Linked DNA regions of Homo sapiens: region 1 is linked to region 2. Evidence: fine-mapped expression QTL. A gene starts in region 2. The other region holds a variant in brackets. All regions are shown on one strand. Distances are from middle to middle. Region 1 holds the start of LOC107985377 (a long non-coding RNA gene). Region 2 holds the start of WNT4 (Wnt family member 4).

Region 1 (2,895 bases), 110 kb after region 2:
CTTGGAGGACAGACCCATGATGTCAGGGAAAGAGCACTAGACAAGGAGTCCGCAGTCCCAGCTCTGACCAGCTGAAGAAACACAGACAAGCCATCCATGTCCCCCTCTTTGGGCCTCAGTTTTGTCCTCTGGTCATTGCTGAGCTGAAATCTCTAACTCTAAGGGCCCGAGCTGTGCCAGTCTTGGATTCTAGACTCAATTCATTTGCAGTGTGGTGGAGGGGCTTGAGGTACAGCATAGAGGTGGGCAAGCCATGGCCGAATCCAGCTGGGCGCCTGCATTTGTGAAAAAAATAATGTCTCTGCACTGTCTATGGCTACATCAGCAAAGTGGAGTACTTGCAACAGAGACTGTCTGGCCCTCAAGTGCTAAAATATTTTCTCTCTGGCCCTTAGAGGAAAAGGTTGTTGGCTCCCCCACACTAATGGGCAGATTTCAGGTGTAAGTCACTGGCCAGTTGGGAATTAGAGGAGAGGTATTTGTTTGGCAGGGGGCGTGGGAAGGGCATATTTTGATGGAAGTTTTTTCTAGTGCACTGGTCAGGATCTCAAACTCAGATTCCTCTCTACGGCCTCAGTTTCCCTGTGTGTGAATGGAAATCGCTGTACCTGCCTGGCACAGTGGGTAAGGAGGGAAAGTCTCGTGCCTGGGCCAGGCTGGCGGAGCTGGGTTATTTATGGTTTCCGCCGGGAGGGGGGCTGCAGGCCGCGGGCCGTGTCTGACCTGAATTCTTACACTTACAGGAAATTAGAGCCCTTGGAAGCAGGTGCGCTGGGATCCTAACACTCGGGTGGCCGAGAGGGCGATGTGGCTGAGGCAACAGGGAAAGGGGGCTGGACTGGGCTGGGGGCTGGAGGAGGGGCCAGTCCCGAGGGGACGGGGCTCCAACCTCACCTTCCTGCTGTCGTGGAGAAGAAAAGTGGTAATGACCGCTACTGTGCACTGGGCTCTCGCTCTGTGCTTTGCTTGTGTTTGCTCAGTTAATCCTCCCAACATGCCTCTAAGGTAAGATGATTGCCCCTCATTTTACAGATGGGGAAACTGAGGCTCAGTGAGGTGTGCTCACTTGCCCATGAGCACAGAGCAGGCGTTAGAGTCAGGATTTGAACCCAGGAAAGGCTGTACAATTCCAATTCTTATATCCTCTTTTCCATACCAGCCACCTATGGGCAACAAGGTCTCCAAGGAAACTCCAGAACATTCTGTGGGTTTCAGTGGTTACCTGCTGAGGCGGCATTGGGCATGGAGCATCCGAGGGTCCAAGGTGAGAAAGAATCAGGGTGTGTGGCTTATGGTCCAGTTCCAGGGTTGGAGCGGGAGGGTGAGTGGTCGGCGTCTGTGGCAAGCAGCTGTGGGGCTTTTGGGAGCTGGCCGTAGGCAAGGGAGTGCCAAGTGTCTGCAGTCAGAGGCCAGGAGCCTGGGAGGCTGGAGAGATGGGGTCTGGTCTGCCCTGAGGTCGGGCCTGGCCGGGGGTGCCCTGGGTGGGCTGCCTGTCTGCAGCGGGCAGGTAGGTGAGCCTCGTGCACACTGGGTCATGTGTGACGAGTCTTTGATTTATAAGAATGTGTGGGAGTGTGAACTCATGTGCAACAGTGTGAGTGTGAGACAGGGTGGGTGTGATTGTTTGAATATTTG[T/G]ATGTTTGCAGAGGCGGGTGAGGCTTGGTAAGGGCCAAGATGTCTTCAATTTGGGGACTTTCTTTATTAAAAGGAATGCAAAATGACAAATACTAAAGAGACTTTAAAACGAGAAAAGAAACCACAACGAATTACTCAATTTTTAAGCTGACAAATACCACAAACATTACCAAATCCAGAAAAAAATCATAATATTTTTATTAATTAACTCCCTGGCACATTCCTGTACTACTGATTTTTATTTCTCTTTTTGGCTTTGACCATCGTGTGAACACATTGCAAGGGCCCTCCCGGGGCTCTGGAAGGAGGCTGCAGCTCCAGCCTTGGGATGTGTGAGTTTGTGTGAGCGACTGAGGGCGTGGGTGTGTGTGCGGGTGTGACCAAATGTGGGGGCCTGTTTCACAAAAGAGAGATGGAGAGCAAGGCTGTCATGGCAAACTGGCTCAATGGGTATTTGTTGAATAAATAAAAAGGACGATCGCATATGTGAGAGACTGTGTGTGGAGGAGATGCATGTGTGTTTAAGCACGTGCACATGCGTGAATGCATGCATGTGCAGTAGTGGCCGTGGGAAAGAGTGTGTGTGAGTCTGTGTGATCCCTCGGTGTCTTTTCTTTGGCATTCTAGTTTTAGGGAGCCCCTCCCTGCCTGCACCTCCACCCCCACCCATACCCCGCCCAGAGGCAGATGGGCACAGACACGCTGTGGCATTTGGTCCAGGCCTTGCGGGGACAGGCTCAGTGCGCGGAATTCACAGCTCCTTCCCCTGCCCCACCTCCCCTCCTCCCACCGATGAAATGTTGGTAATTCAATCCACGGAGAAGCCCGATGTCCCGGGGAGAGGCTGGCATGGGCAGTGTGTGTGTGTGTGTGTGTGTGTGTGTGTGTGTGTGTGTGTGTGTGTGAGAGAGAGAGAGAGAGAGAGAGAGAGAGAAAGAGACAGAAAGAGAGAGACAGGCAAGCAGAGAGAGAGGAGACACTTGCATTTTTCCAAGCTGGTGGGCTCCCAGCTCATGCCCTTCCTTGTACAAATGGGGACCCCAAGCCTTAGGGGCAGGGAGGGGACATGTCTGAACAAATGAGTGGGAGCAGGTTGGGACCAGAATTCAGCTCTCCCAGGTCAGTGTTTCCGATACAAATAGCCCTTGAAGAGCACTTGCTATGGGCTAAGTAAGCATTGGGTCAGGCTGAGGGGTGGAGGGTGCTTGGACAGAAAGAATCCTGAGTTGCAGCCACTTTTAGAAAAGTAGGGGACTCTGC
Region 2 (2,844 bases):
GTCTTGATGCAGAGAGAATTTTTTCCTCTCTCCCTGTCTCCATGGAAACCCCAGCTACACTGTTGGCGATCCCCCTTCCCACCCCATGCTTTTCAGATCAATATTGGAGCTTGGCTCCCCACTGGCTGCCCACAGCGGATGGTGGCAGAGCTCTGGGCAGGAGGAACTGGGGCCAGGGTTAAGCGCGGGGCATGGGGAACTGTCCCTGAGCGGGGATGAAAGGAGCGCGGGTCCGCTTGCTCCCTGTCCACCCACTCACTGGAGCTCATCCCTTTAGTCTCCCTCCCTGCAGCAAACCTTCCGCCCCTACCCAGGGAGCGCCCTGAGCGCAGATCCAGTCAAGGAGAAACAGACAGGTCACCAGCGGTTACCACCCCTTCCTCCTTAGGCTAGACACGGGGAGCTGGGGGGCCGTTGTCTTCTTTAAGGTCTGGACGGAGTTTCTTCCTGCCCCGGGGAAAAACCAAGGCCCGGCCAGCGCCAGCGCCAGCCCCGGGCCCTGGGAGACCAGGCGTCCTGGTCCCTTCCTTCTGTCTCCGGCTCCCGCCCCCCAAGCAGAAACAGGTCCCTGCACGCCTCCAGCCCAGCCCGCAGCGCGGCGCAGCTCGGCGCAGCTCGGCGCTGGGAGCTCGCTCCGGACTTCTCGGGATTAACCTGCTATTATGTCCCGGAGCCCTTCCCTGCAATGGGCTTCCTCAGCGACCTGTCAGCCCGGCTGGACTGCAACCCGCGTCCGGCGCCCCTCCCGGGCCACCGCCCCGCGCTCGCACCCCTGGCGCCCTCGAGAGCCCCGAGCCGCCTACCGGTGCGGACGCCGCCACAGCCACCCCTGACGCCTCTGGGCAGGGAGCCGGACCCGGGCAGGAGGGGACCCCGGGTGTGCAGAGGGACGTTCGGGCCGTGGCGGCGGCAGCGGAGCGAGCGAGCCTCCGGTCCCGCGGCCGAGACACCTGCCGGGCTGCCCCGCGCCCGCTGCCCCGCGCCGCCTGGCACCGGCCGCTGCCCCCGGGGCCTGCCCCGCCCCGCCCCGCCCCGCTCGGCCCCGGCCAGACTTACAGCCAGTTGCTCGCGGCGGCTGAGAAGACGGCGAAGACGAGGAGGCGCAGCGAACGCAGGCACGAGCGGGGACTCATGGTGCCGCCGCGGGCGCCCGGCCCGGGGCAGCGGCTGCGGCCGCGGGGGGCCTCCCGTCGGGGCTGCAGGTGGGCGCCCGCGGGCGGGCCGGGGCGCGCGCGGCGGGGCTCTGCCTCCGTGTGCCTGCCGGCAGCCTGCCCGCTGCTGCGCCCGCTGCCCGGCGCGGACCAGACTGTCAGCGCCGCCCCAGAGCCGGGATGCGGCGGCGGCGGCGGCGGCGGCGGCGGCGGAGGCGGGCGGGCGGGCGGGCGGCCGGGGGGGCGGGCCGGGGGCGGGCCGAGGATGGGGTTACCTGGGCGGGCCCAGCGGCCCGGGACACCCCCCCGGGGGCGGGCCGGAGCGGCGGCGGCTGCCGCCTTAGCCCGCGGGACTGGGCTGCTCCCGGGGCCTCCCCGGCTGGGCGCTCCGGAGGACTTGGGGCCCGAGCCCGCTCCAGGCACGCCTGGCTGCGCGCCGCCGAGCCCGGCCCGGCTAGAGGCGCGGCGACCCAGCTGCCCGGCCGCCGCCCGGGCCTAGGGGACAGGCGGGCACAGCTCCCCCAACCCGCCGCTGCGGGCACTGCAGCGCGGCCCTCGCTGTCCCCCTACCCCCCCCACCGCCCCCCGCCGGCGCCTGGAGCCCAGACCCCGGTCCGACCGCGGCGGACCCACCGGAGCGCGGCTACCACTCGCGCGCACCCAGGCGCTGGCGCTCCGGGTGCCTGGGGCTGCACATCGGGGCGCTGGATGTCTCCCGACCGCCCCCCGCCCGGCCCCTCCCTGCCTCCTGGCCCCCGCGTCCTGCGGCCCAGCCCCTCCCTGGCGCTCACCTCCCTACAGCCTTCCGGGAGCTGGACGGGGCCTCCCCAGCTTTGGGCAGCTTGGGACAGTGGCCCGAGACTGTGGGAATCCGAAACCTCGCTTCTGGCTAGCCACAAGGTCTGGGCGCGCCCCAGGCAGCAGGGTCTTGACTCTGAGCCTCCGTTTTCTCATCCGGGAAGTGGGCTTAAGACGCTGTGATTGGGAGGACAGGAGGAGTTTAGGGAAGCTCTCTTGGCTCACTCACCAAGTCTTACTTTGCATTTGGTTTTCTATGTGCTTGTTCGATTTATCCTCCCATACTAGGCAGATTCAGCCTCTTGTTTGTTTTGGGCACAGGGCGGTGCCTGCCATGTTTGTGGAAGGAATAAATGAATGGAATGGAATGGGCTGCAACAGCCTGTGCTTGGCTAGTCCAGAGAGCTCAATTCCACATCACTGTAACCCCTAAGAATTGTCTGCCCAAGTCCACGCCACACCCTCTCAGGTCACTGATCTGATTCTGTGTGCTACTCATCCTCCAGGCTGCATCCCCCAGCTGCTCACAGGTAGAGGGACCTCTTATCTAAACAGTAAAACTAAGGCCCGGAAAGGGAGGCACCTGTCCCACCTCCCTAGGGGTTGGGAACAGAGGCAAGGACCAGGTCTATGCCCTCACCCCCTGATCTTAGTTCTTCACTGATTTTGGAGTATGAAGTTTGCTCCCACAGAGGCCATCATGTTTGGGTGCTGGGATGGTGCCCTGGGGTCCCCTGGGCTCAGAACAGAGGAAGGGCTCAGTAAACATTTGGTATTGGGACTGGGTGGAACGTGGCAGGGATTTGTGGGGCTGGGCAAGAGTATAGATGGAGGTTCACATACCATATGTCCAAATATTTGCAGGCTATAAATCAAGCTAACAAAATGCAAAATA

The links. PIP is the estimated chance that this variant, and not a neighbour inherited with it, causes the effect.
Region 1: its variant is the best candidate, but not a certain one, in a credible set for the expression of WNT4 in nasal epithelium (TOPMed, PIP 0.88).

The regions. Positions count from the first base shown.
Region 1 is chr1:22,251,670-22,254,564 of GRCh38, forward strand. LOC107985377 (a long non-coding RNA gene) reads left to right here and starts at 896. Exons shown (of 5, transcript XR_001737789.1): 1 at 896-1,005; 2 at 1,160-1,264. RefSeq lists an enhancer at 2,044-2,895. The variant T/G (reference allele first, on the strand shown) is at 1,636.
Region 2 is chr1:22,141,790-22,144,633 of GRCh38, forward strand. WNT4 (Wnt family member 4) reads right to left here and starts at 1,308. Exons shown (of 5, transcript NM_030761.5): 1 at 1,057-1,308. The coding sequence starts at 1,133. All of the region lies in intron 1 of LOC105376845 (a long non-coding RNA gene), which reads left to right. RefSeq lists silencers at 776-835, 1,398-1,727.